2 separate regions of the Homo sapiens genome follow, and region 1 is linked to region 2. A link means that fine-mapping ties the variant in region 2 to the expression of a gene that starts in the linked region. Tissue or cell type: blood mononuclear cells. Region 2 holds a variant in brackets; the other region holds the start of a gene. All regions are shown on one strand. Distances are from middle to middle. Region 1 holds the start of TRIQK (triple QxxK/R motif containing). Region 2 has its middle 27 kb from the start of TRIQK.

Region 1 (16,168 bases), 28 kb before region 2:
TACGCATTTGTTGACTAGCAACTACTGTGGCAAACACTGTGGTAAGCACATCACATACCACAAATTTTCATAACATTTCTGCATGACAGGTACAATTTCCCAACTGAGGAAATTGAGTTTCCTAATGATTAACTGACTTGCCCAAGCATGCAAAGTTGACAGGGAAAGTAGCAGAGATTAGAACTCAAATCTATCTGATTATAGAGCTTACTCTCTTTCCTCTATGTATTAGAGTATGTTCAGACCACTCACCAGAACTACAGACTCTACCTCTGTAAAATGGAGTAAGAGCCTTTTTACATATACATACATGTGTACATAACCATATATACATATATGTAAGTATGTATATAAATATACATATGCATGTATGTATACATAAAATTAATGTATGTACATAAAATATATGTATATTTACGTATACATACACATACAGATACACATATATACACATATATATGTGAAGTAAGAATGAAATGAAGTATTTTTATGAAAATGTGTCAAATATAAAGATCTACATAAATATAAGACAATATCATCTGAGTAACTATTTTCATTATATATCTAAATCAAGGTTCAAAGGGGATATGTTTTCAGTTAAATTTTACAAAGGCATTCCAAACAAACGTATTAATTTTAGTAGAAGAAATGCAAAGTGTTAATTTAAACATTGGTTTTAAATATCTAAGCAAAGAAAATCTAAATATATTCAAGTGGTCTATAACTAAACTTCTATCATCTCAAACTTTCATAAAGTTTTTGGGGTGCAGTATGCAAGCATATACATTATGTTTTGTCTTAAAGCAGTTAGTTCTATCTACTCAGGAGAAGCCAGAACAGATTACGTTTTTACTTTATAAGTAACTTCTTAATATTCTAAAAAAGTTTAATGATTTACGTTTATTTAACAGCCTGCTCACATAAGTTTACCTACCACGTAAGTTCCTAGGGTAACTAGGGGATTGTTTATATATTCCCCCTTAAAGGAAAACCTGTGTATACCTCAGTACAACTTTTATTCCATGAAAGTATAATCATAGAATTAAAGAACTTTAGAAAGTGTGGTACAGTATTTGAAAAAGCTTCAGAACCATTTCAAAATACCAATTTGATCATGTTGCTCTCCATTTGAAAACCTGAAATGGATCCTCATTGCCTCCAAGATGCAAATAGTTTTGCATGTCATATAAGAGCCTCCTCAGCCTTTGCCAGCAGGTTCATACTGCCTCAACTCTAGCCACTTTTCTCTAGATTAGGCCCCAATCACTAAACTTCTTTTGATTTTCCAATCACAAGAACCCATTGACAGCTTAATAGCTTTACAAATCTTATTATACTTATTTCAATGTTGCTCAGCCCTAGCCTTGTCTAACTTGAATTCATAGGCACCCTTCAAGACCCCATTTCAATCAATTACGTACTTTCTCTGTACAAGTCACCTATACCTGCTGGACAAATCTTTGGTTATCTGATTGATATGTAACTCATAACTCACTTATTAAATATTGTACATACTTATCTCTATAAACATCTAGATTTTTGGCATATAATAGTATCCATTATTTCTTATTATAATATTGAGATATTACCTGATTTTCATCTTTGGAAATAAAACTGTAAAATATTTACATGAATTTTGTTTCATTTATGGAATAGAGATGGAAAAGAGAAGATGTGGATTATAAAATTCAAATAATAATAGATTCCTGAGGTTAACCTTAACCCATATAAGACCAAACAGATGCTGGGGTAAGTCAAACACTGAAGGGCAAAAATTGAATAAATCTGAGTCCCTTGAACTGAAAAGAAAAGTACACTATGTCTTACAATTCAGGTCAGGAGTTGGAAAACTTCTTCTGCTTTCTAGATACAAATATTATAGGCTTTGGATGTCAAGAGGGAAAATCAAATTATAACAATGTGACTATGATTTTAGTGTGCTGAGATGCAGAGCAAGGCAATGAAAGTGCCTCATGTGCACCTCTGCGGCAATTACACAACTCTGCTGTATTGTATTGTACTGTAAAAGCAGCCATAGACAATACGTAAACAAATGAGTGTGATTGTTTTCTAATAAAACTTTATTTATAAACAATTAAATTTGAATTTTACATAATTTCCACATCACATATAAACAAATGAGCGTGATTGTTTTCTAATAAAACTTTATTTATAAACAATTAAATTTGAATTTTACATAATTTCCCCATGTCCACATTATCCTTTTGATTTTTTTCAACCGTTTAAATATGTACAAACCATTCCAAGCTCACGGATCATAGGATACACAAGGTGAGCCAGATCTGGCTTGCTGGTCGTAGTTTGCTATTCAATGGTTTGGGGATATTTTTTAATCTATTCATACTCTTGGATTATCAGGTTTCCTCTCTGGCATAAATGAGTCAGAAGTTCACAAAATTTTATTTAAATCTAGGTCGTTCTTATTGAATTAATTGTGTAGTATTATCTTCTCATGCAAACAATGTTTTATATTAGCAGTCAATTTTTAGCTATATTTAACAAAACTATTTAAAGTCTGGGGTATACCATCAGTTATATATATGCATACACACACACACACACACACACACACACACACACACACACACAAAATGGCTTTTGTGTTGATATTGCATTATCTCATAATAAGCTGGTATCTTCGGGTCTTTTTCCTCAAAAGGAAACACGAAGTAGTTTAGATTCCTTTATACACATGCTCCTCAACTTACCGTGGGTGAAAAATATCTTAAATCGAAAATGCATTTAATACCCCAATAAACCCATAGTAAAATTGAAATATTGTAAATCAAACCATCTTAAGTCCAGATGCTTTTCAACTTATGATAGGGTTACATACCGATAAACCCATCATGAAGTTGAAAAACCATAAGTCAAACCATTGTAAATCAGGGACGGACTGTATACGTAAGAGTGGTTTTCTGTTGCCATCACACAAGAATTACAAACTGCCTGGGAATTTTTTTAACTATAAACATGTTGCTCTGTTGTTTTCTGGCATTTCATACTACAGAAAAGAAGTCTGAGGCCAGCCTAATAACATGCTTTTTTCTTTTCTTTCTTGATATGGAAAACATTTATTTTCTTTATCATCATAATTTGACAATTTTGTGATTTTTGTGTCTCTTTAAGTTGTCATGCCTTACATAAAAAAGGCCCTTTCTTCCTTCATAGGTCTTTTTCAGCTCAGGAAAGTTTTTTCTCCTATTTATTTTTAAAATTATTTTTCTTTCAAATACTCTGTTCTTTTCTTCAGGAACAACTATTTGTCTATCTATCTATCTATCTATGTATCTATCTTCTTGTCTCTTTTTCAGAGACTCCAAATATCCACACAGTGGACTCTATTCTTTATTCTCCATATATCATCTTTTTATGATTTCCAATTTTTTAACTAAAATAACCTCTCAAATCTATTCTCTACACCGACTAAACTTTGTACAACGACATCAATTCTATTTGTTACTGCCTCAAATATAGATTTTTAATGCTTTTGTGATAGGCAAAATAATGTTCCCCCAATCCAAAAATGTTCAAGTCCTAATTCCCATAACCTACAAATAAGTTACCTTAGATTGCAGAAGGGACTTTGCAGACATGATTCAATGAAGAACCTCAAAATGGACAGATTGTCCTGAATTATCTGGATGTGTCTTCAAAAGTAGATAACCCTTCCAGATGTGGTCAGGAGACATGACAACAAAATAAGTCAGATTGCTGCAATGTTGCTGGCTTTGACGTTGGAAGAAGGAGGCCATAAGCCAAGGAATGTGAGCAGCCTCCAGAAACTACAAAAGACAAGGAAACCAACCATCTCTCCTAGAGCCTCCAGAAAGGAATGCAGCCCTGTCCCGACCTTGATTTCAGCCCAAAGTGACCTATATCAGACTTCTGAACCACAGAACTGTCAGATACTAAATTTGTGTTATTTTAAGTCACTAAATGTGGGGTAATGTGTTATAAGAGGAACAAAACTGATACGGCTCTCATATTTTCAGTTTCTCATCATTTTGTTTTCTCTTACTATCTTCTCTCTGACACTTCATCACTGTCTGTTATTTTTACATGAAGTTCTCCTATCCATAGAAGCCATGTATTCTTGAATGTGTTGGACGGCAAATAACTCCCCGAAATGTTCTTCCTTCCTTAGCTTAAAATTATTTTTAGAGATTCATAGGTATGCCTCTGAGTTTTCTACTGATAACCTCTGCCTTGATTTTGTAGGATGTCTTGTTTCACTTGATTTATTTTCAAATGTTAATTTATCCAGAATATTTTAGCACTGAAAAAACTGTATAGATAATTTCTACATAAGCCAGTGTTTTCCATTTATCGATAAAGGGGACGGTGTTGAGGGGAGGCAGAAAATGAACTCCCTAGGAATGCAGACAAAGCAGAATCGGAAACTGGGAGGTTCTTTTTAAAACTGTACCTTCCCATCCTGAAAAAAAAAATCTGATATACCTCCTCTGCCCAGAGAGATTCAGTACTATATACTGAGTCACTGTGAATGACGGCAACGTATTATAATGCTCAAGCATGTTGTTCAAAAAAAAGAAAAATCTTCAACCTTTTCCACATAGATAATTAACTTGACTGGAAAGTTATTAATACCCAACAAAGGATATTTCTACCTACAGAGCTAAGTCTAAAACTTTCAATACAGTGCACCTTCCACCTGCTATAGGTAATAAACTATAATCCACAATTAGGACTTTGCCACAGGTATCCATATAGTTCATTATTCCATACCCTGCAATATTTGAATATTTTAACATTCAAAGTATGTAAAACAAATGTTATTTGGATTAACCTATCTTTCTTTTGTCATTGTCAAACTTTTAAATTGTTCAATACAATTGGTCTGTTATTTTTGCAACTACGTCACTAAATAATACTACTACAGAAGAACTAAGCTAGTTTATGCTGTTGTCATTCTCCACTTCAGTGGCTTAAAAGTCATGTGACTGACAAGAGTCTTTCATTAATGGAACTGTCTTTGCCTTTTGAGTCAAAAAAACTGTTAAACCACTGAATATGGAGTATTTACCTTTTTATTGTTTAACATTTCAAAATTACGAATTAAGTAGGAATCATTTATTTTTCATGGAAACATACACCTATCTCACTCTATTGTTGCAAAGATGCTGAACATTTCTACCATATAAAAAAGGTATAAATATATATAATGGTATGAAAAATTAGCTCTAGGCCTACATGATCCTTATCTGTTTAATAGGAAATTTGAGAATATCAAATATGATCAAATATGTATCACTATTTTCCATTAGTATTATTTTAGTCACTCTGGATGAATACCAAAAAACCACAAAATTCTAAGTAATATTGTTTAAGACATTAACACTTTGAGTCAAATCTACTGATATCAAAAACACAGATACATATGCACAAAGATTAAGGAGAAAGCTGGCTGAGTTTCGCGTTTCTACATAGAAGAATGTCCACTGGAGCAGGGACTCTCAAAAGATGCTTTGGCATTGGAGTGAGACAAAGAAATTCTTTATTGAGCTGATAGATCTCTACATTACACAATATTTATCATCTCTGAACTTCAGGATCCCAAAAGCCAGTAGTACTTCCTTTAAAGAAATTAGAATAATTTTAAAACACCCTGGCATATTTCAAATACCCCAGAGGTGTCACCCAGAATGGAAAACCATTCTGGAAATGGAAAACCAGAGCACTAGATTAACAGTCCTGGCCTCAGATCCCACTTCTTCTTCACAGCTTACCAAAAAGAGACGTATCTGACCGGTTCACATTACTCCACCGGTAGAGCTAACCCATTATAAACCACTAAGCACTGGAGATTTTCCATCTTTTATTAGACCTCTGCCCTACACCATGAAAAGCAGTAATTGTAAGTAAGCGTATCTGTTCCGCAATCTGAAATTTTTCTCTCAGCTGAACTAAAGTCTAGGTTCTGGGAAAGAGAGTAGGAGTAAAAGGGGATAGGAAGTACTAGTACTCATTTTTGGTCTCATTTTTGCATAAAGCACTATCCCCACTCGACTTGTTATTGCAAGTTGAAGTTGATATGGCAGGCGCCACATGTCTGTTTACAAACGCAAGAGAGGAAGGAAAGAGCTATTATTGAGCCCCTAAAAATCTCTAAATCCATTGTAATGCTCTCTCTAAGCCATTTGTCTTTATCCCTGTTTCTCTACCAGAAATGAACAGAGTTGAATAAAGAAAGAGTCAAGTACCAAACAGTTCAAATAAAATTACAAGTACTAACGAAATAACAGGTGCATATATACATTTATGCGTTTTACAAAAGCAATAGCTCTTTACCTCTTCAAGTTTTTCCTTATCCAATAACAACTTTTTATATCTACTACTGATATCCACTTTTATTGATAAAGCTAGATAGGGAATCAGACCAAAGAAAATAATGAACTCTATTTACAGATTTCTATATGAATATAGAAATCAGGAAAAGAGCCACAGTGAAAACAACCACAATTCTTTTTAGCCACAAATTAAAATGTTATAAAAGATTATTCACTTAAGTTTAAAAAAAAAAAAACAGTTCTAAGTATCAAGTAATGATATTCCAGTGGCATGTACTAAAAATAATCAGCTTTTCTTTGTCCAAAACGGACCTCGATAGATGAGAAAGTTTATGGATTTAATGTTCATCTCAAAAGTACAATTTTGGCCAGACGCGGTGGCTCACCCCTGTAATCTCAACACTTTGGGAGGCCGAGGCGGGCGGATCACCTGAGGTTGGGAGTTCGAGACCAGCCTGACCAACATGAAGAAACCCCGTCTGTACTAAAAATACAAAATTAGCCAGGTGTGGTGGTGCACTCCTGTAATCCCAGCTACTCGGGAGGCTGAGGCAGGAGAATTGCTTGAACCAGGAAGGCAGAGGTTGTGGTGAGCTGAGATAGCGCCATTGCACTCCAGCCTGGGCAACAAGAGTGAAACTCCGTCTCAAAAAAAAAAAAAAAATACAGTTTCACATTTTTCTCAAAATATTTGACAATGTTCTTTTTACTTGTTTAAATACCAGAATATGCTTTAAGAGGTTATGATCAAAGGGCATTTGGGATAAAACATAGATTACATGGTTTTGTAAGATAGCAACAAATAACTGAACATTAGTAGTTCCCGTTTGTTAGTGCTCAAAAAAACAAAAAAGTACAATGGGAAAGGGGGCCCCAAAAGGGAACTGCAGATGACTGAAGGCCTTGAACAAAGGTATGTTATGGTAAGAGGCACTGTGGAAGAAAGGCAAAAGCCCCACTCTGCTCCCAGCTATGTAGCCTTGGGTAAAAGTTACTTAGTCTCTCTGTAGGATGAGGCAAGTGGGAGAGAATAATTTCCTTATCCCTAAAGAAGTTGAACAAAAACAGGGTCCATTTAGGCTTAAAATTGTGCATTTTTCTGAGGAGCAAGTCAATAGCTTTCCTTGGTTTCTCAAAGTGGTAAATGACACCAAAAAGGTTAGTCATCCTCGCATTAAAAGGTAATGTTTCCCAATCTTTTCAGGTATATATATATATCTATATATATATATATATCTAGTGATATTAAAGAGGAAAAGGTGTCATTCAAGACATTACAGGTTCTACCTAACCAGAACCAACACAGAATCAATAATGAATAGATGAGTTAATTTCTTCCCCATTTCTAAATAACCCTAAGATTAAAAAAAAAAAAAATCACAAGGGAAATTTGAAAATACTTAAAGCTGAATGGCAATACTTATACGTGTTTATAAATTTGGATCATATACACAAAAAGATTAAAAGTGTAATCAATAATGCTTTACATTTGTGTGGATCATTACTTTAATGATACTTTCACAACCAATTATTCCTCCTTTTTTAGGAAGGAAGGGCATATCCTAGAGTCTCCAATTTACAGATAACGAAACAATTATTGCCCAAGGACAAACATTTCTTAACCATGCCAGTTTCCTGACTTGTAGGCCAATGCTCCTCCCAATGTTAACAAGCAGCACAAGCTTCCTTCCTGGGGGTTTGCACTGTAAACCTGCCAGAGGAAAATAAAAGATTTTTACCTCTTTTGTTTTTTCTCTCTGGAATGTTTGTTGTGCTGAATCATTAGGAGACAGAGTATATGAGCAAACAAAGGCAGATTTAAAATGGTTATCTGAGGTTACCATCTCACACCATACTTGTTGATCATTAAGTATGAGCCGAGTGAAGCAAAAACAGCTCTACAGGTTTAGCACACCTCTCCACAGTAGAGAATGAAAGGGAGATTATACATTGGGGCTCCTCTAGCAATAAATTGCTTCAACTTCTTCAGGAGGCTTATTAAGCTCAAACAAGCAGCAGAGAACTCCAAGTAGAAGAAACCTAATCTCCAATCCCCTTTTCCTAGTCATCCACGCGGACACCAACATCTGATGGATTCAGGAATACACCAAGCTCCAAGAAAAATACCCCCGCCCCACAACCTCACCACCACCGATAAAGCCACCTAATCCTGTCTGAATCTCTTCTCTGCAAATGTTTTGGTATGCAAATACTCGTTCATTAATAAGAGGAAGCAGGAAAAAGAGTGAAGAGGAGTACCATGGGAAAGGGGGCCCCAAAAGGGAACGGCAGAACCCAGAGAGCTGCACTGACAAGTAAGCGACCGCGAGTAATCGGTCAGCACAAAGGAGCCAATCCCGAGCCGCGTGGAAGACCTTGGGAGGTGGGCGGGACTAACGTGTCCAGGGCCCAGCGGCTGGCGCCAGACACGCTGGCAGGGCGGGAACCGCGCGTTCCTTAGCAACCGCAATGGCCACGCCCACCGAACCCAGCACCCTCCATCCCCCATCCCGCAGCCAGCGCCCTACTCAACGGGAACGGGTCCTTCAGTGATCACCGTACCTACTGGGTTTCCCGGACTCCGGGTTTCTCTTGCAGAGCCTCCCTCCGCCCAGCCCCACCAAGTGCCGCTCCCAGGGACGGAACGATCGTCTCCCAAACGCTTTAGGGCTCGCTAAAGAGGTGCGCCCGCTTTCATTCCCGGACCCCGAGCTTCCCGGGCAGGGTCTCCCCAATCCCCTCGCACTCGCCGGACACACACCTCAGCTCTGCCAAGGCAAGGGCCGACAAACTTCGTGTCCTGTGGGAAATGTTGCTGTCCACGGTTCTGTCACTCAGGGGCAGGGGCGGGACAAGCCAGCCGCACACCCCTACTCCCAAAGGGTGAGGCGGAAAAGAGGCGAGGCTCTGCCCCCAGGGGCGGGACCAGGCCTCAGCCTGCTCTCGGATTGGTCGGCCTTTCTCCCGTCTGTACGCCGGTCCAGGACGCAAAGGCGCTGGCCCTGAGGCCTTTCCCTCATTTTGATGCCACTCCGGAGTTCTAATACCTGTCTCACGAGGTGACTGTAGAAATTAAAAATAAAGACTGTGACTTGTTTAGTTAATATAAAACGGAAAAATATGTTATTTTGATTATTGAACCCTCCCATCTCACACACACACACTCCCCAATTCACAGGATCATCCCTAAGGAGCGTCCCTAAGTGGAAGGGCGCACTGTCTGTGTAAACAATCAATTAATTGCCCATTCAAACAGCAAAAAAGAAAAAAAAATCGTTTTATATTAACATTAACCAGAGATTAATAAATTTAGGAAAGATTGCAAAAACGTGACTGACAATTAGGATTTAGGAGCCTATGTTCGGGTACTCAATTTTCACATCTACAAAATGGGAATGAAATATTAAGATGTTACTTATTGGAAAAGTATTCAAATATTAAATGCTTTATAAATTATACTCATGTAATCCTTACAAAACCCACTAAGAGTATTATCCACAGCCTATGGACAATGAAACACAGGCTAGGAAAGGCTAGATTTATTCAACCATTCAACAAATCTAAGTGCCTGCAGCCATCATTTTTTAATATTGTGGTGAACTAAATCTAAAATTCCTTCAAAAAATTATGCAACCTCCAATTTAATTTTTCTCTTGCTCACATAAAAGTCACCTTCCTCTAGGCCAGCCCCATCATATCTTTTTCCAAAAGCCCTTGAGAAAGAAAGTAGCATACAAAAAAAAAAAAAAAAAAAAAACTGAGACAAGTATAAATAGACTAACCAGAAGGCTTTCTGAAATCTCACAGAATATTATGGCCAGGAATTGAATCCAAAATGTAATTTTATTTTCCGTCCTCCTAAATCATTTTCTGGTCTCCAGTTCCTCTCCCAGAAATAAAGGTAGAGTTAAATGAGATTATATTAATACACTTAACCAGATTACTTATGTGTGTGGCTTTAAAATAGTGAAACTCTTTTTCCTTCCATATTAAACCAAAACCCAGAAGGGTTTATCTTGTCTGATAGATACGGTTGTAGTAAGAAAAAAGAAAAAAAAAAAGAGTACCTCTGGACAAGTGCCTTGAGATTCAATTAAAATGTTCATCGTACTGTGATGCAATTGTTGGAATAAAAGAAACCCATTCCAATTACAAATAATTTTACACTCTTGACCTGCTGAATATCCAAATTCTTCTGAAAGCTTGCTAAATGTGAATAACTCTCTATAAAACTTTCTTGATTTGTATGACTCAGAGTCCCCATTTTCTTTAATCTTTTAAAAATATTTGGTTTGGCCAGGTGTGGTGGTTCATGCCTGTAATCCCAGCACTTTGGGAAGCTGAGGTGGACGGATTGCCTGAGGTCAGGAGTTCCAGACCAGCCTGGCCAACATGGTGAAACCCCGTCTCTACTAAAAATACAAAAATTAGGCAGGCATGGTGGCAGGCACCTGTAATCCCAGCTACTCAGGAGCCTGAGGCAGGAGAATTGCTTGAGCCCGGGAGGCAGAGGTTGCAGTGAGCCGAGATTGCATCATTGCACTCCAGCCTGGGCAACTGAGTGGGACTCCATCTCAAAAAAAAAAAAAAAAAAAAATTAGTTTTAGACTAAAAAGAAAGAGTTATGATTATATATTAATAAATATATAAATAAATGCTGTAAGATTTAAATAAAAGTGGTGAATGTACTTGAGTCCATTTTCATTACATAAAGATGTACAGCAATGCATTTGTACAGCAAATGCATTGAATATTCTCACATATGTAAGATATTATACAACAAGAAGTAAATAGCTTAATGTAAAATTAAAACTTCCAGATGTATGTTATATGCTTATTTCTTTACCATATAAAGACATATATTATTGACTTACATTTCTAGCAAATTGAAATATAATTGGCTGCATAGTATTCTATGGTGTATATGTGCCACATTTTCTTTATCCAGTCTATTATTGATGGGCATTTGGGTTGGTTCCAAGTCTTTGCTATTGTGAATAGTGCTGCAATAAACATACGTTGGCATGTGTCTTTATAGTAGCATGATTTATAATCCTTTGGGCATATACCCAGTAATGGAATTCCTGGGTCAAATGGCGTTTCTGGTTCTAGATCCTTGAGGAATCACCACACTGTCTTCTACAATGGTTGAACTAATTGACACTCCCACCAACAGTGTAAAAGCATTCCTATTTCTCCACATCCTCTCCAGCATCTGTTGTTTCCTGCCTTTTTAATGATCACCATTCTAACTAGCATGAGATGGTATCTCATTGTGGTTTTGATTTGCATTTCTGTAATGACCAGTGATAATGAGCTTTTTTTATATGCTTATTGGACGCATAAATGTATTCTTTTGAAAAGTGTCTGTTCATATCCTTCACCCACTTTTTGATGCGGTTGTTTGTTTTTTTCTTGTAAATTTGTTTAAGTTCCTTGTAGATTCTGGATATTAGCCCTTTGTCAGATGGATAGATTGCAAAAGGTTTCTCCCATTCTGTAGGTTGCCTGTTTACTCTAATGATAATTTCTTCAGCTATACAGAAGCTCTTCAGTTTAATTAGATCCCATTTGTCAATTTTGGCTTTTGTTGCAACTGCTTTTGGAATTTTAGTTATAAGTCTCTGCCCATGCTTATGTCCCGAATGATATTGCCTAGGTTTTCTTCTAGGGATTTTATGGTTTTAGGTCTTACGTTTAAGTCTTTCATTCATCTTGAGTTAATATTTATATAAGGTATAAGGAAGGGGTCCAGTTTCAGTTTCCTGCATATAGCTAGCCAGTTTTCCCAACACCATTTATTAAATAGGGAATCCTTTCCCCATTGCTTGTTTTTGTCAGGTTTGTCAAAGATCAGATGGTTGTAGGTGTGTGGTGTTATTTGTGAGGCCTCAGTTCTGTTCCACTGGTCTATATATCTGTTTTGGTACCAGTACCATGCTGTTTTGGTTACTGTAGTATAGATTGAAGTCAGGTAACATGATGCCCCTCTTTGTTCTTTTTGCTTAGGATTTTCTTGGCTATATGGGCTCTTTTTTGGTTACATATTTAGAATTATGTTTCTGTGTTTCCAAGTATTTGAGAGTTGTCTAATATCTTACAGTTATTGACTTTTAATTCCATTGTAGTTAGAAAATATATATTGTAATATTTCAAATTTTATTGAAAATTATTGACACATATATTATAACCCAACATATGGTTTATCTTTATGACTGTTCTCAGTGTATTTGGAAAAAAAATGTGTATTCTGAAATTATGGAATGCAGTATGCTCTAAATGTTGATTATAGTCTATATCTTATGACAGTTTTTTTTTTTTGCTTTTAAAAACATTTTATTTATTTATTTTATTTTTTCATTTTACTTTAAGTTCTAGGATACATGTGCAGAATGTGCAGATTTGTTACTTAGGTATACATATGCCATAGTGATCCTTACCAACATTTTTAAGCATATTCTATCACTTATTGAAAGAAAGGTGTTAAATCTCCAACTATGCTTGTGCATTTGTTTATATTTTCTTTTTTTAAAAAAAATTAATTTTTTTTAAATTTTAGGTTCCAGGATACATTTGCAGAATATGTGGGTTTGTTACACAGGTAAACTTGTGCCATGCTGGTTTGCTGCACCTATCAACCCATCCCTTAGATATTAAGCCCAGCATGCATTAGTTATTTATCCTGATGCTCTCCCTCTCCAAATCCTCCCCTAGCAGGTCCCTGTGTATGTTGTTCCCCTCCCTGTGTCCATGTGTTCTCATTGTTCAGCTCCCACTTATAAGTGAGAATATTCAGTGTTTGGTTTTCTGTTCTTACATTAGTTTGCCGAGGGTAATGGCTTCTGGCTCCATTCACGTTCCTGCAAAGGACATGATCTCATTCCTTTTTATGGCTGCATAGTATTCCATGGTGTATATGTACCACATTTTCTTTATCCAGTCTATCATTGATGGGCATTTGGGTTGATTCTATGTCTTTGCTATGGTGCATAGTGCTGCAATGAACATGCGCATGCATGTATCTTTATAATAGAATGATTTGTATTCCTTTGGGTATATACCAAGCAATGGGATTGCTGAGTGGAATGGTGGTTCTGCAGTTCTGCTTCTAGGTCTTTAAGGAATTGCCACACTGTCTTCCACAATGGTTGAACTAATTTACATTTCCACCAACAGTGTAAAAGTGTTCCTATTTCTCCACAGTCTCACCAGCATCTGTTGTTTCTTGACTTTTTAATAATTGCCATTCTGACTGGTGTGAAATGGTATCTCATTATAGGTTTTGTTTGCATTTCTCTAATGATCAGTGATGTTGAACTTTTTTTCATATGTTTCTTGGCCACATAGATGTCTTCTTTTGAGATGTCCCTGTTCGTGTCTTTTGCCCACTTTTTAATGGGGTTGTTTTTCTCTTGTAAATCTGTTTAAGTTCCCTGTAGATTGTAGATATTAGACCTTTGTCAGATGGATAGACTGCAAAAATTGTCTCCCATTCTGTAGGTTATCTTTTCACTCATGATAGTTTCTTTTGCTATGCAGAAGCTCTTTAGTTTAATTAGGTCTCATTTTTCAATTTTTGCTTTTGTTGCAATTGCTTTTGATCTTTTGTCATGAAATCTTTGCCCATGTCTATGTCCTGAATGGTACTGCCTAGATTTTCTTCTAGGGTTTTTATAGTTTTGGGTTTTACATTTAAGTCTTTAATGCATCTTGAATTATTTTTTGTATAAGGTATAAGGTCGGGGTCTAGTTTCAGTTTTCTACATATGGCTAGTCAGTTTTTCCAGCGCTGTTTATTAAATAGGGAATCCTTTCCCCATTGCTTGTTTTTTTCCTGTTTGTCAAAAATCAGATGGTTGTAGATGTGTGGTCTTATTTCTGAGTTCTCTATCTGTTCCATTGGTCTATGTGTCTGTTTTTGTACCAACACCGTGCTTCTTTGGTTACTGTAGCCTTGTAGTATAGTTTAAAGTTACACACACAAGGGAACAAGACAAGGATGCCCTCTCTCACCACTCCTGTTCAGCATGGTATTGGAAGATATGGCCTGGGCAATCAGGCAAAAGAAAAAAATAAAGGGTATTCAAATAGGAAGAGAGAAGTCAAACTGTCTCTGTTTGCAGATGACATGATCCTGTAGCTAGAAAACCCCATTGTCTCAGCCCAAAAGCTTCTTAAGCTGCTAAACAACATCAGAAAAGTCTCAGGATACAACATCAATGTGCAAAAATCACAAGCAATTTTATACACCAACAATAGACAAGCAGAAAGCTAAATCATGAATGAACTTCCATTCACAATTGCTACGAAGAGAATAAAATACCTAGATATACAGCTAACAAGGGATGTGAAGGACCTCTTCAAGGAGAACTACAAACCACTGCTCAAGGAAATCAGAGAGGACACAAACAAATGGAAAAACATTCTCCATGCTCATGAATAGGAAATATCAATATCCTGAAAATGGCCATATTGCCCAAAGTAATTTACAAACTCAATGCTATTCCTATTAAACTACCATCGACAGTCTTCACAGAATTAGAGAAAACTACTGTAAAGTTTATATGGAACCAAAAAAGAGCTCATATAGCCAAGACAATCCTAAATAAAAAGAACAGAGCTAGAGGCATCACGGTATCCAACTTCAAACTATATTTTCTTTAGTTGTGTTAATTCTTTCATTATATATTTTGAAGGTCTGTTACTAGGCTCATACACATCTAGAATTATTATGATTTCCTGATGAATCAACACTTTTATCATTATGCAATGTTGACCTTTTTATCTCTGGTTATACTTGGTGGTGAAGAATATTTGCCTGATATTAATAATCTTAGATTAGATGTATTATGCCTGTTGTTTCTACTAGATCCATTTCCTTGCCTTTACATTTAAGCTATCTATGCCTTTATAGCTCTATCTCTTGTATACAATATATTGTTGAATTTGCATTTTTTCCAGTCTGACAATCTTTGATTTGTTATAAAAATATTTATTCAATTTCCATGTAACATAGTTATTAATATGAAGGGTATAAGTCTATCATTTTTCTTTGTATTTTTTATTTTTCATTTTTACCTTTCTCCTCCATTTATACTTTCCTTTTTTTATTTGCTTTAGTCAAAAATGTTTAGACTTCCAGTTTGTGCTTCTAATGGTTCTTTAGCTATATTCTTTTTGTTATTTTATTTGTGGTTATTCTAGAGGTAACAATCTATATTGTTATGCTGAGAATCATCAATGTTGCATTCATTTAATATTATGTTCTAAGAGTAGTGCCCTGTGCTCCTCCTTCACACCACCCCCCAGTTTTCTGCCTAGCTCCAACTTTCTACTTGCTTTGGCATTATGCCATTTGGCATGTCCCCATCCAGGAGGGTAACAACACTATCTTTCACACCCGGGCCAAGAACACAGGAAAGTGAAGTAGAAGAGTGGATAAGGCCAATCCCACTAAGTAGAAGGCTAAGCAGTGCTGAGCCCTTAACAAAAGCCACAACTTCCAGCTGATCTTTACTGTGTTTCAAGACCTGTCACTCAGGGCCAGCTTCACGGTATGAGAACTGTACAGGCCCACAACACCCATGGTCAGAAGGTTCCCCTGTTTGTTTAATGATCTACTATTGCTGTCCTGAAATTTTTAATAATTTTATCTTTGAACTTATTTTTTGTAAGTTCAGTCTAATGGGATAATGAAGCGTGTGCATGAGCAGAAGAGATATTCACAGTAAGTTCTCTACTATTTCTTGTGATCTCACTTGCACATAGAGTTCATGGTGCCTCGTGAGCACAGAATTCTGATGGACCCATCATAGGTGAGAGTTCGGCGAGACTCA
Region 2 (16,168 bases):
CCTTTGATGTTTCTAAAGCTAATAAACTTATTGTCCTAATTATTTTCCTAGACTGAAATCTGATACTATTATACGTTTGTTTCATTTGTTTTCTTTGTTTCAAAGTCAAATGACACTGTGATTGATTTTGAATGACCATATTGTGCTTCAAAGTTAAAGACCATTTCTTGAACACATAGTTGTTTTGGCTTATATGTGAGATTATCTGTGTGTGTGTGTGTGTGTGCACGCGCACGCATGCACATGCACATGCACAAAACACAGAGAGAGAAGAAGAAGAGAGGGAATGTCTGTAAAATTATTGCTCATTATTTAGTCAGTGGCTATGGAAACTTCTCCTTTCCTCATGAATTCCATTCCTCCTAGCTCCTGGATTCCACCCACTGTTTCTTCTTCTACTTTTTGATTTCCTAGTAGCTACCATCATATACTATGGTGTAGGTGAAATTAATGAACATATCTATTCCTGGTACAAAAAATTGGGGGATAGCTTAGTGTAGAGACATCAGAGGAGATTTAGCTTCACTGTATTTTCAGTTGCCATCTGCTATTGGAAGCCAAAGTCAAACAATCCCATATACTTATTGTTTGTACATAGCTGACATGTCTTAAATCCTTCAAGGTTTCACCAGGCCAGGTTGTCATAAAACCTCTGGTAAACTTGACTGAAGCATGCTTTTTAGTAATAAAATGTTTGTAAAATGAGTTTTTGTTGCCGATGTAATTGTTGTTAAAAAACTGTATTACACATTTTGTGCCCAGGCTCTTGTCAATAAGATCAGATATGATAGATGGATCCTATCCTTTCATATTTACAGGCCAGGAAGCTTGACTTTTCAGTTTACCAAAATTAGTAAGAATCCAATATTGTCACACACTGCCAGAGTTCATAAACACTGATGTATAAAGCCAAAGCATGAACTTAATAATTTACAACGACTAATTAAAGTTGTTAAGGGTACCAGATACTTTCCTCTATTTGACTAGCACATTTTTCCCTATATATTAATTACATGCAATGTCAATTACCAGAAAGGTGTTTGTGGCCTTCAATCACAGGGAGGCACCAGTTGAGTGATTTGAATGTATAGCAGAATTTGGCTGTGATTATTTTGGATCTATTAAGATGATTTTACATATCTCTGCCAGAATCGAGTATAACTTCATGTATACTAACATGTATTACATAGGATAACCTATAAAGAAAACTTTTTTTTTTGCAAGTTCTTGAAAGGCACCACATTATTTTGCCAAGCATCAATGCAATATTATCTTGTTTCATATTGTTTTGTGACTAACAAATAGACACATGCTTCATCTGAAATTCACATAAAAGCCTTTAACTTCAAAGATTTTTCTTCTACAGACAAAATGCAACCATTTGGGGAAAATATTTGAACCCAGAAATTAGTACAATTAGCAAATGTATTTATAGGAATAAACAAGAATATCTTTTTCATCAAATCTTTAGCTACTAATAATCACAACTTAATTTACCATGAGAATTTTACACTGATTTAATGACAATACACCTTTATAACTCATGTTCTGTGAGTCACACAACTTTCTAGATAATTCTGTAATACAGAACATGTGAAGACTAGAAGTCTTTTCAGTTACTTTTAGTGAAATACTTTCTCGGGGCCAAATCTCCCATTTAGTTCTACTTTCTTATTTTATACATGCAGAATAAAAGAGTAGGGATAAAATTTGTTTCATTGTAGTCATGCTAAAGAAGGCAAAATCGATGTTCTGCAATGATTCATTCCCAAATACAGAGATTGGAGGCTGAGGGTGAATGTGCAGAGACGTACACATCTGTAAAGGGAAATAATTGGGTGCCATCTAAGGATGATAGTTAAGATGGTTGTCCTCTAATAATCTAGAAATAAAAGAAATGAAATCATATCTTGAAAGTATTATAAATCAGGACATGACACATGACAAGCTACCCAAGTAACAGACCTGTTTCCCCAGATGTTTTCCTAATAGGAATAAATGAAATGGTCAGCTATAAAGTTTTATTTCTCATTTTAATTTGAAATGTAAATTGTCTTTCAGAATTTTTCATTTCTTATAATTTAACATACTATGGTCACCATCCCTGAATCTAATCAAGTCTGGAATACTAATTAAAGTGTTTTCTTTTTTAAGAAAATAATGCCATCACATAGGCCATTGAAGCATCAGCCACTGACTTACTTAAGTGACATTCTATCAGAAAGTCCACTTCTGCCTCTACCTTGTAGTACAGTGACTGATGCTTTCAAGAGATGGCTCTGTAAATCTAAAATTATGAGCAGATGTCAGAAGCTTTCTAGATTCTCCAAAGAATGTATTCATCAGTTTCTTAAAAACCAACTAAAAGGAGAATTAGTTTTCCTCCAGAGAATGGGAACTCTACAGAGAGTTATTTAATGTATAGGCTTATATGTGTGTATGTCATTTGGTTTTACATGATAAGCATTTGGGTTTCTCCTACATAATTAGCACAAACATAGAATGAATGGGTACTATTATTGTCTTTGAATACTAGCAGTCTTAAGAAGCAGCTTAGTTTATTGGTGAGCTATTACCAGAAGTAATTGCTTAGCATAGTAAATAATAATCAAAATTGTAGTGGGTGAATATATGATTCATCAAAATAAAGAAAATTATAATTTTCTCAAAATGATTATTAGAAAAATTATTTATACTAATTTTAATGCAAAGACCTTCACGATACATTCATATTCTAGGATACTATGCACGTATTAAAATCTTGTTTTTGAAGAATATTTAAAAACATGGGGATAGTTTCTCAAGTAAAAATTCAAGCTAATAAACAGAATATTTACTAAGATCTCAATAATGATATTGATGAAGAGATAGAAATACGCATATAGATACAAAAGACACAGATACAGATGCAGATAGGGTACATGGTTGTATCATCTTTAGATGACATAATCGTCGTTTTTAGTTTTAGTTCATACTTTATACTTTCTTTTTTTTTTTTTTTTTTTTTTTTGAGACGGAGTCTTGCTCTGTCGCCCAGGCTGGAGTGCAGTGGCGCGATCTCGGCTCACTGCAAGCAAGCTCCGCCTCCCGGGTTCACACCATTCTCCTGCCTCAGCCTCCTGAGTAGCTGGGACTACAGGCGCCCACCACCACGCCCGGCTAAATTTTTTTTTTTGTATTTTTAGTAGAGACGTGGTTTCACCGTGTTAGCCAGGATGGTCTCAATCTCCTGATCTCGTGATCCACCCGCCTCGGCCTCCCAAAGTGCTGGGATTACAGGCGTGAGCCACTGCACCCAGCCTATACTTTCTTAAATTATTATACCCAAAAGGTGAACTCATAATATTTATTGTCGAAAAAGGATGGATAAATTAAATGAAAAGAAAAGTATGTATGTTTGTGTATGTATGTGTGTGTTTACATTTTATGCCACTTTTTCTGACATTTAAATGTGGTAGGGTACTATATTGGTTTGCTAAATTTATTTTCTACTCTCGTGCTAGAAATCATAAACTCGATTTCATTTTCAAGTGTTACAATTTGATCAGTGATTCCACTCATCTCCTAAATTATTTGATATGAAATTATCTCTGCTCTACTTAACCCTCAACATGTACTTGCATAACATTTTTACTTAAAAAATTGGTCAACTCAGAAGATTGCAGATTTCCAAGATCCTTTGTTTGGCCCGCATATCAGTTTTGTTATCTCATTACATCAAAGGATACTTATCTCTCTTAACAATTAGCAAATTTTGTTGAACATAAGTTTCTCGACATCAGGGATTATATCTTATTTAACTTCTCAGACCTTGAAATATTATATAATAAATATATATTGAACTGCATATCATAAAAATGTTCACCCCTTCCTTCCTTTTTGTTGTTTTAGCTTCATTCCAACTAAAACATGGCAGTGTTTTATTTATTTTTGACAGCAGGTATGCAAAAACTATTCTAAATTTTATTCAGAAAAATAACAAGAAAAGATAAGAAAATTAGTGGGTTACAGATGCAAGAATACATGGATAAATCAGATAGCCATTGACAAACCCTGTAGACATGAGAATTTAATATGTGATAAAGATAATACTGCATATCAGGAATGGAGGGGTTAATCTATAAATATGTTTTATTTTAAAATAGTCAACTTAGAACCACAGCTCATTCCCAAAATCAAAGTAAATTTTAGGTGTATCAAACGTTAACACTAAACCATAGAAGAAATTAGGGCTAGAATAAAATATGTCAGAATACCTGAATAATCAAAACCATTTAAGCAGGGGTTCTCATCCCTCAGGCCATGGACTAGTACCAGTCCGTGATCTTTTAGGAACCAGGCTGCACAGCAGGAGGTGAGCAATGTGCAAGTGAGTGAAGCTTCATCTCTATTTACAGCTGTTCCCTATCATTTGCATTACTGCCTGAGCTCTGCCTCCTGTCAGATCAGTTGCAGCATTAGATTTTCATAGGAGCTCGAACCTGTTGGAAACCCCCCATGTGAAGGATATAGGTTGCACACTCCTTATGAGAATCTAATACCTGATGATCCGTCACTGTCTCCCATCACCCCCAGATGGGACCAACTAGTTGCAGGAAAACAAGCTCAGGGCTCCCACTGATTCTACATTATGGTGAGTAACATAATTATTTCATTATATATTACAGTGTAATAATAATAGAAATAAAGTATACAATAAATGTAATGCGTTTGAATCATCCTGAAACCATCCCTCAGCCTGGTCCATGGAAAAATTATCTTCCACAAAGCTGGTCCCTGGTGCCAAAAAGATTGGGACCACTGCATTTAAGCATAAAAGTAGGTGAAGACATCATGAAAGAATGTATTGACACATTTGACTACGTAAAAGATTTTTTTACAGAAACCTCATTTGTTTAAAAAAAAATCAGAGAATTAAAAGGCACATAACAAGTAGTAGAAGATTGCCACAGAGATTAATGACTTTAATAAAGAGTTACTAATAAGTGATTTAAAAAAATACTAAAACTTCATAACAAAGATCATAAAAAAGCAATTTATAAAAACATAGATTAAAAATAAAGTATTGTTATAACAACATTCCGTAATGGTCAGAATGAGGTAAGATGGAACTATAAAGCTGGAATCACCAAAGAAACAGTATATTATGCTCTTCACATTGGTTATTAAAACAACACAAGAAGAAATGCTTGTCATAAAGATTTTCTCAAGAATCGGGAGCTTCTTTTTGTCAGTTAATAAGAAAATTAAATTAACCAGAACATCTGCTTTTCTAAGAATTCCAGTCAATTATGATACTAATGTGGATGCTATTTTTGCTGTGATGCTCCTTTTTCATTTCCTGTGTTTTATTTTTGTGCTTTCTTTGTATTTTTTTGGTTACACTTGCCAAACCTGTCTATATTACTGGTTTTTAAATTAAAGAAGATCACGTAGTTGTCGCTGGCAAGATGGCCCAATAGGAAGAGCTCCGGTCTGCAGCTCCCAGCAAGATCAACACAGAAGGCAGGTGATTTCTGCATTTCCAACTGAGGTACCCGGCTCATCTCATTGGAACTGGTTAGACAGTGGGTGCAGCCCACAGAGGGCAAGCTGAAGCAGCGTGGGAAGTCGCTTCACCTGGGAAGTGCAAAGGGTCAGGGAACTCCCTCCCCTAGCCAAGGAAAGCCTTGAGGGACTGTGCCATGAAGGATGGTGCACTCCGGCCCCAGGTAGTATGCTTTTCCCATGGTCATTGCAACCCGCAGACCAAGAGATTCCCTTGGGTGCCTAGGCCAGGGCCCTGGATTTCAAGCACAAAACTGGGCGGTCATTTGGGCAGACACCAAGCTAGCTGCAGGAGTTTTTTTTTCATACCCCAGTGGCACCTGGAATGACAGCGAGACAGAACCATTCACTGCCCTGAAAAGGGGGCTGAAGCCAGGGAGCCAAGTGGTCTAGCTCAGCAGATCCCACCCTCATGGAGCCCAGCAAGCTAAAATCCACTGGCTTGAAATTCTCACTTCCAGCACAGCAGTCTGAAGTTGACGAGGAACACTCTGGCTTGGTGGGGGGAGGGAGGTCCACTATTACTAAGGCTTGAGTAGGCAGTTTTCCCCTCCCAGTGTAAACAAAGCCACTGGGAAGTTCAAACTGGGCGGAGCCCACCGCAGCTCCACAAAGCCACTGTAGCCCGACTGCCACTCTAGATTCCTCCTCTCCAGGCAGGGCACCTCTGAATAAAGGGCAGCAGCCCCAGTCAGGGGCTTTTAGATATAACTCCCATCTCCCTGGGACAGAGCACCTGGGAGAGGGGGTGGCTGTGAGAGCAACTTCAGCAAACTTAAACGTTCCTGCCTGCCAGCTCTGAAGAGAGCAGTGGATCTCCCAGTACAGTGCTTGAGCTCTGCTAAGGGACAGACTGCCTCTTCAAGTGGGTCCCTGACCCCCATGCCTCCTGACTGGGAGACACCTTCCAGCAGGGGTCGACTAGGTATTAATGGAATGTATCTCAAAATAATAAGAGCTATTAATGACAAACCCACAGCCAATATCATACTGAATGGCCAAAAGCTGACAGCATTCCCCTTGAAAACACACAAGACAAGTATGCCCTCTCTCACCACTCCTATTCAACATAGTATTGGAAGTTCCGGCCCGGGCAATCAGGCAAAAGAAAGAAATAAAGCGTATTCAAATGGGAAGAGAGGAAGTCAAATTGTCTCTGTTTGCAGATGACATGATTGTATATTTAGAAAATCCCATCGTCTCAGCCCACATTCTCCTTAAGCTGATAAGCAACTTTAGCAAAGTCTCAGGATACAAAATCAGTGTGCAAAAATCACACACATTCCTATACACTAACGATAGACAAACAGAGAGCCAAACCATGAGTGAACTCCCATTCACAATTGCTACAAAGAGAATAAAATACCTAGGAATGCAACTTACAAGGGATGGGAAGGACCCCTTCAAAGAGAACTACAAACCACTGCTCAACGAAATAAAAGAGGACACAAACAAATGGAAGAACTGCACTCCAGCCTGGGTGACTGAGCAAGACACTGTCTCAAAATAATGATAATAATTGGGAGCATTGCAAAAGACTCTAGGGAGTCCTTTCAGTGGCACAGAGGCATGAAACTCTGCTTGTACCCTTCTCTGACTTACACAAAGCAAAAGCAATCCACTGCTGGGAGAGAAACAGGAAACTCCTGCCCCCAGGACCCAGGCAATGTTCCTGGGGGAGTGGAGGAGAAATGGAAGTTGCCTCTGAAGGAGGAGGAAGAGCAAAGATGGACTGCTCCTGAGGGAGAGGTAGAAGCAAAACCCTCTGCCTCTGAGGACAGGGGAGGAAGATCTTCCTGCCTCTACCGGGAGCCTTGTACTAGTAACAAACAATATCAGTCTACCACTGGACAGTGCCAGGCAAAGGTGCAATAGCACCAGTAGGGGTGAGAGACAAAGGTCATCTGCTCATGGGAGAGGAGAGGAGCCAAACTCCTGCACTGATTCAAGTAGGGGTCTGAGAGAAAGCCAGGATACTGTCTCAGGCCCAAGACTTCACATAGAGATGACACAGTTTGGCTGCCACAAGGAGAGGTGTAGGAATGCTGTTAAAGCCGCACCTCTGAGGCCAAGAAGCACAGGGCCAGCCTGAGGCTGAGGCAGGATCAAGAGAACTGAGAACTCCAAGAGCTTGCTATTTATTGCGAGACCATGAAGACAGACTCCTCTGTGGGGCAGTTGAGTGGGGTCTGCTGAAAGCTGAGAATGAAACAGAAGACTGAGTAAAACCTCCGGCACCCCAGAACCCTCATTAAGCCAAAGAAGAGCACCCCATTGTTGGAAGAATTTGAAGTCCTAGTGCACTGAAATGGTGACACCAATGACAAAATTCCAAACTAGCTCAACTTATGAAGAGACTGATTCATTTACTCATATTAACAACCAGTCAGGAGAAGAATTGAGATTTATTTCTTTCAATTTCCACTCTTCTTTCATACACTCCAATCAAAGAGGTCAAAAGGAACCTATGAAGAGAAGCCATCAATATCCTGAATTCTAGGATCTTCTAAGAGACCTATTTGATTTTCTAC[T/C]GGTCTTTTCAGTCATTGGTAAGGCTGTTACATCATTGGTAAGGCTCCAGGATCATGTCATCCAGGTTTCTGGTGCAAATGAAGTGAGTTTTATTCAGCTTTCCCCAATCAACATTTTTCTTTTTAATCTACTTTGTTTTCTTTCCCTTGTGCTTGTCACTGTTATCTTCCCTATCTGAATCTCAGACTTATCCCCATCATTCTTTCCTAGCTCACCTTTTTCTTATTCTTCTCATCTGTCTCCTCATCTCTGGCTTTCCTCTTTCATTTCTTCTCCAAAGAAAAAGCAATGAGATGGTCAGTGAAACAAGGGTGCATCTTCACTGCTTCCTGACAAGCCTCCTTCTAGGTATTCAGTCTAATTTTCTTGAAGATAAAGATCACTTTGATACACAGGCTAATAAGTTCATTGTAGTCAGAACAGACTGTGAAGGAGTCCCCAGCAGAAAACACCCAGATACGCTGCTCATTTTCAGTGCTTAGTGAGCACAACTTTCTGCCATCAGGTAGGCAGAATAAAAGCCAACACCAACCCATCCAATCATGGAGATATCTGCACCGGTGGGCAAAGCTTCCCTAAAACCTTGGCAATAGTTGATAAACTATTATGATGGTATTAGCCTTGATCATGCCAATTCCCGTGTCTGCAAGAGTTAGGATCAGTCTGGGAGATCGAGAATGATGTCTACCTTTAGTTCTTTATGACTAGCCATCTAACTTGGAACTGTCTATTAGGCTTTAATGGCAAATCTTGTCCAGGGTATCAGAAACAATAGAGGTTTGTTATTTTCCTTATTCGAGTAAGAGATATTGATGATAAAAGACTAGGCAAACTTCCTGGGAGGCAAAGGTTTCCACCTACTCCTCTTGATGGTACACTTCCTCGGGCAGTTGGAACAAGGGCAGAAAGAACCAGAAAGGAACCACAAAGACTATTCCTGTTTCTCCTTGTGTGGATGGCACAGAACTGACTAAAGAGCCCTTAGTTATTTTTGTACACTAACTCTGTGCAATTTTGAAAGAGGTATATTAAAATCTCCATGAAAATTTAGTGCACTATCTTCTTTTTAATAGTTTTAGTTAATATTGTATCGTGTATACAGGTTTAAAGTTTTCATAAATTATGCCTTTTACTATCACATAGTATTTCTCTCTGTTCTGTCTTACTGAGCTTAACTTTAAATTCCACCTTCTATATTTATACTTCCCTGACTGCTCTTCTTTTATTTATATATCCCTAGTGTCTATCTGCTTATCTATATATCCCTAGTGTCTATCTGCTTACTCCTTTTTTTCAACATTTTAAAAAATTTATTTGTTTCAAATGTGTTTTATTTTTTAAAAATCACATAATTTTTTTTCCTCCAAGGCTGACAACTGCTGCACTAATAGAAAAAATCCAGTCCATTCATATTTAGAGGAACAATTTAAATAATTGTTTATTATTTTCATTTTTATGTATGCTTACCACTTAATTTATTTTATTGTTTCTTCTTTTTCCTTTTTCTAATTTTTTACTAGGTTACTTATTCCAGTTTTAACTTTGTTAATCTACAAGTCCTGGTCCTTCTCTTTCTTCCAATTCTTGACACTCAATCCAATATATATTTTTATAATATTACATCAAACCAGATACCACCTCTGACCTTATACTACTCTATTTATCCACTGCCTTATTGCTCCAATTCCTGTCAAAATAAATCCCTTAGAACACTTTTGATTTTTGTTGTTTCTCCCTACAAACTCCTTGTTTCCCCCTACAAACTTCTAAACAGAGTTTAGAACTTTTATTCTAGAGTACTGTTGATTTTCCATTACAATATGTTCCTTCTCTTAAAAAAAAACTGTATTTATCAGTTATGTTACTAATTCACAGTCACAATATTATTAAATATATTCACTAAACTATTTCTACTGAAAGATTTATTGCTCATTGTATTTTTCCTTGCTATTCTACTTTTATGGAGGGATCTGGTTTATAATTCATTCCTTATTTGTTAGGGGAGAGTTTTTCTCACATAGATCACCTATATTTTCTAGGTCCTTGCATATCCATAATGTCATTTTTTATGTCTTGATCTGAGAATTATGTCTTTGCTAGGTATAGAATTTTCTGATTACTCTCTTATTATCTTAATGCCTGTTATCCCGCTATTCCCTTGTTACCAGTGCTATGAATAAGTAGTTCAATGCCACTCTGATTCTTTATCCTTTAGTTTTTAACTTATTCTTTCTGATTATGAGCTTCTGCATTTTTCTCTTTATTGTTAGATTTCAGGAATCTTGTCAGAATATGTGTGTTTTTATTCCCCATCTACCCTGCCTGGTATTCAGTGAGCCTTTTCAATCTTTAGGGTCTTTGTTATTAAAATCAAGGTATTTTTCCATTTTTTTCTTTTAACTTATGCTAGGTCTTCTGGGTCTATCCTATGAGATTTTTATCATTTATCTTATTTTTTTTCACATTTTATTTTCACTCTGTGTTTGAAGTAGTTTTACCCTTCTTTTCCATTCACTGATTTGGTTCACAACAGTGATCATCTTCCCTCAAGTCAGCTACTAATAATTTTTTAATTCAAAAATTATCTATGTTTCTTCCAGAAAGTCAAACATATGTTATAATTGACTCTACTTAAAGGGACTTAGTATTTTGTTTGTTGAAGTTGATGAACACGGTTATGTGTCACATCTTACAGCTCTAGTTCACAGGGGCCATCTGTTCTAAGGGTTCTGCTTCATTCCTTTAGCATTATCAATGTTTTCATTCATCTACTCATGATTTTTATTCAACTTTAGTAGCTATGTCAGGTTTCCCGGGATAGTCATGTGACGGGAATTCTAAGAATAATAGAATAGATATAATTGGCTTCTTGTGAGAAAGTGATATGTAACTACCAACTGTCAGATCTCTGTTGAGGCACTAGACGGAGGCCACTCTGATCTTCATTCTCACCAGTTTAGAATGCCATTTGTTTTTAGAACCTCCCTGAGTGAGATTTTATCAATGTAAATAAAATGATTTTTACTTTCTTAATTAAAATATTTCAATGACTTTTGATTGTACTTGGAATTAAATCTAAACTCTTTTTTGTGGTCTGCAAGATTTGCATAATTTTTGTGCTACATCTCCAGCACTACACTTGGTGTAAGTCTTCCATTCTGTTTTCTATTCTTTCAAAATAGTTTAAATTCTCTGGTCTCTCAATTGTACTTTTATTTTCCAATGTTCTCATGGCATTTTAATTTTATGTATTTTTAGTTATTTCAATAAGTTCAAAAAGTTAAATTCAATTGTTCAGCCTACTGCATTGAACCATAAATCAAGACATGTAAGCAAAATTGTGTGTAATATCTCATAGATTCTATAATAGGCATATGTGAGGAATAGTGTTGAGCATTAAGGAGCAAGTGGCTATATGTATGTGAATTGAATAGTTGTTAAGAAAATGGCTAATAAAGGAAGTGACATGAACTCAGAGACTGTAATCACCTTGATATTATAAACTATAATTAATTCTTCTTTGAATATCTCAATACTGGTTATCTATTAATATTGAATGGTTATGTTAACATATTACATAGTGAAATAAGTGATCCTAACCCTTTCTAAATTCTAGGGAGCTTCTACTGTTTTATTATTACTAAAGGATTAGAGCTTGGGTAGACTGCTCTTCTTTTGGGAAGTTTAATAAGGAGTCTTTGTAAGTGTGTATAGATAGTACCATGGTTAAGACTATCGCAGATATTGAAAAATAGTTTACTCTTCAAAATAAATTACAGAAATCTTAGCAAGCAGAAAAAAGTGTTGGTGGAGGAAGTAAAGAATGGGAGAATCACCTCAGTGAAGTGGGGAGTAATCAATATACAGGCAGAGTGAGACCCATGGACATTCGTGTCCACTGAGAAATTCCTGTGTTGAAGGTGACTAGAAAATTTATGATGACCAATACTCAATCATACATTGTTTCTCTGTTAGTACTAGGGTAGTAATTCTTTTCACTTCCTGCAAGCTTTCAGTAGAATATGTTACAAATAAAAGCCTTTTGCTAGTGATGTTCTAAGGAATTAATGATTGGGTAGAGAGGAACTGAGAGAGGAGGTCCACAGAAAGTGAGACAGTGGTGGGCACCAGGCACAATAAACATACTGGCACTAGGAATTCAGACTGTGCATAGGAACAAGGAAATAAGTACTTTAGGAAATTTTCAAAAATATTATGGATCTTGTTGGACTTTTTACAGTACATGTGAGATATTATTTGCATATTAAAAGAAAGGGCAACCGAAACCCTATCAACCTCAGAAGGCTAAAGGATTTAGGACGTTAGGTTACAAAGTACTTTGAGATATCTAGGTTACAAATTTATGTGTGTCTGTGTCAGGGGTGGGGTTGTTAAAGTGAACTGCACTACGTCATTTTAAATGCAACTCAATTTCTGTCCTTACATAGTCAGCAATAGTGAGAACTGACATTTGTGATTTACTCGTAGATTTTGAAACATTGAAGAATATTTTCTTGATGTTGTAAGCTCTAGTGAGCAAATTTGAGGACACTGAAAAAGGCACTAGCACCTGCACATAGTGCACTTTGATATATATTTGTTGCATGAATCAATCAATGAATTAATCAGTGCATGAATAATTGAGTGAATGAATGAATTAATGAAAAGGAACAAATGAATGAGCCAGGGGAACTGGATTTAGTTCTGACTTAACACCTTTGGGCTTTTTTAAAATCCATAAATGTAAAGAATTTGAATTTTAATTTTAAGCACCTTTCAAGTTCTAATAATAGAAAGTTTATTATTATAAGATTTCAAACTGTAAGACAACACTTACAAAAATCAAACAAAGTGAAATTTAGAAGTGTTATGGTACTCATTAAACTAAATTTATTAATTACATTATTGATTTTCCTAATATTTACAGAAATAATATATTTCTGTATGTATATGATTAGTATGAGAAACAAGAGCAATTAATACAAATGAAAACAGTATAAATGCTCAGTCAGCCTCAAGGCTAAACTTTTTTCTGCTAAGACTTTAAAGACCCAACACAGTACTTGACCTTTAGTGAACTCTTAGTAAATGTTTGTAGGATAAATGAATGAATAATTAATGGTTACATTATATAATCAAATATTAAATATTTAGCTTAATGTTGATATATTTTAACTCTCTTTTGTATTCATTTTAATTCTTTCCATTAATTTTCAGTTATAATAAAAAAGAGAGAAATGGAAATGGGTTTAAGCTTTAGTGTGAGGGATTTATATTTCGTTTAAGAAAGACAATTTGGCAGAGAAGATTGTTTGATAATAGAACAGTTTACTGAAAGAAATTGGAAAATTTCTTAAGAGATTAGTGTTAGCACAGTACAAAGGCAGAAAATTAAATTAAGTCAATAGTTTCAAATGTATGCATTTTATATCTCATCAAAGACTGTATAGAAACAAAACTCCCCCATTTGGTGAAAAGGACAAGTATTTAATGTATAACATTAGATGAGTTGTAGGTAAGTATGTAATTACAGTAGCATTTTAGAAAATGAATTTTATTAATATCTCAAATAAAATGTTAATTTCATTAGTTTTTATTCATTTGAAAAAATAAAGGGGCTACTCTTGTTGCTATTTTAGGCATAAGGACTACAAAAATGAAATGACAACCTTAAGGGACTCATACTTTAGTGGTGAAGTCAGACAAATAAGACAACATTTCCAGGACAGCCTAATATTTTTAATATGTAAAGACCAGGGGACTCTGGGAGCAACAAAGAAAGAACACTTCAGAGGTTAGGGAATGATTTACAAAAATGTCTTTGAAGACCATTAGAAAATCTCTCAGGTAGGAAAGGAAATATTTCTCTGGTAGAGGGAGATGGACTTGTAGGACTATCAGATTCTAAGTTGTAGGGTCATGAAAGAGCATGGTTTGTCCAAACACAATTGAATATTTACTTAGTGTCTACTATGTTCCAGATATCTGAGGTGTAGAATATACAGTGAAGAACAAACCAGACATTATCTCCAACTTCAGGTTGTTCCAGGCTAATATTTACAAAGATTTTGGTAACATTTAATAAAGTGTTTACTTGCCCTTGTTGAATACTAGCTATTGCTGTTTATTAAACCTATGTTACAGTTCCAGTAGTGGCTTGTGTTTTTCTGTGCAAATGACATATTGGTTTTTGAATTCTTTTGTTTTTAATATTTTTATTGAAAACCCAACTGTTTCAATCTATTAGCTAAGGACAGACTTGGCTGTTGAATTTGAAATTTATGGCAAAGTTAAAAAACACGTAGTCTCTGAACATATATACTAATTACTCTAAGTTTTTAATCCATTTTACAGAAATTTGGTAATTATCAAATGGAATATTCTGACTACTCGTTTAAACCAGATCACATTTTGTTAGAAATGGTGTATGAATTCAGAAGGTCTTAATGGCCATGTTCCAGTGTCATCAACCAAGAAACAGTGAATCTCCAAAAAAATCATTTTCCTGACCCAATTTGTGGACTTCGTTAATTTAACTTTCTTCATCTTCTGATGCACAGGCCAGAAATGGAATTGTTGCCTCTGAGTGTTAAAGTAATATAAATAATTTATTATTTTCATTGTTGACCAGCATTTTGTTGTTCTTTTGATAAAGACTAATGGTTTTTCAGAGACTTTGTTTGATCAAATTGTATTTGATGAGAGTAATTTTTTCTCCTTTTCCATTGGTTTGAACAGTAACTAAGTCTCCATTAAATTAAAAATGTATTATTCTACATATGTAAATTTGAAGTGAGTTATACTTGACAAAAAACCTGCTTACTTTCATTATTTCAGTTGTTAAAAACTTACTCAAATACCCTCATTGAAGATTTTCTTTATCTTATTTTATTTTTTCTGAGCTCTACATATACTTTCAACTTCCATCATGGTCTCTATATTTACTCATTCTCCGTGATCTAAACACTATTAAACAATTTTTAAAAATATATTTGTATTCAAAGTATCAAAATTTGCATCAAAATATGAAACAGGTAGTTAAAGCATAAAATTAGCTTAACATATATTCAAACATATTTTCAAAGGATAACTTTCAACTTTCTAGTATGAAAGTTAAAAGCCAAAATGGTCACAAATAACTATATCTGTATTAGTCCATTTTTATACTGCTGTGAAGAAGTACCTGAGACTGGGTAATTTACAAAGAAAAAGAGCTTTAATGGACTCACAGTTCTACATGGCCCGGGAGGCTTCACAATCATGGCAGAAGGTGAAGAAAGATCAAAGGCACATCTTACATGGTGGCCAACAAGAGAGCATGTGGAGGGGAACTGCCCTTTATAAAACCATCAGTTCTTGTGAGACTGAATCACTATCATGAGAACAGCCTGGGAAAAGCCTGTTCCAATGATTCAGTCACCTCCCACCATTTCCCTCCCATGACATGTGGGGATTATGGGAGCTACAATTCAAGAAGAGATTTGGGTGGGGGTTGGGGACACAACCAAATCATATCAATATCTCAAATAAGTTGTTAAGGAACACACAATATAAAAAGATATAAATTAAGGCAACCATAATATAAATTGTGGGAAAAGGGTAAAAGTCTAGAGTATTTATATGCAACCAAATTTAAGTTGTTATCAGCTTAATATAGTATGTGATAGCTACAAGATTCTTCATGTTTGCCTCGTGGTAACCACAAAAAAAATTACAGCACATACACAAATGGTAAAGAGAATTAATTCAAAACATAGCACTACAGAAAACCACCAAACCACAAAGGATTAAAAAAAAAAAAAAGAGGCAGAAAGGAACAAAAGAGCTACAAAACAATCAGAAACAATTAACACAATGGCAAAAGTAAGTCTTTACCTATCAATAATAAACTTGAATGTAAATGAATTAAATTCTTCAATTAAAAGGTATAGAGGCTGGGTGCAGTGGCTCATGCCTGTAATCCCAGCACTTTGGGAGGCTGAGATGGGCAGAGCATGAGGTCAGGAGATCAAGACCATCCTGGCTAACACGGTGAAACCCCGTCTCTACTAAAAATACAAAAAATTAGCGGGGCATGGTGGCGGGTAGC

What was found. PIP is the estimated chance that this variant, and not a neighbour inherited with it, causes the effect.
Region 1: it holds the start of TRIQK, and the variant in region 2 is fine-mapped to the expression of TRIQK in blood mononuclear cells (TOPMed, PIP 0.98). The same link has a PIP of 0.9 or more in whole blood.

Annotation. Positions count from the first base shown.
Region 1 is chr8:92,956,914-92,973,081 of GRCh38, forward strand. TRIQK (triple QxxK/R motif containing) reads right to left here and starts at 9,231. Exons shown (of 5, transcript NM_001171797.2): 1 at 9,094-9,231. It also overlaps the pseudogene IRF5P1. RefSeq lists an enhancer at 8,438-8,547 and a silencer at 9,218-9,327.
Region 2 is chr8:92,985,015-93,001,182 of GRCh38, forward strand. It overlaps a transcript of TRIQK not described here. Among named protein-coding and RNA genes, the nearest start is that of TRIQK, 27 kb to the left of the region's middle. The variant T/C (reference allele first, on the strand shown) is at 8,079.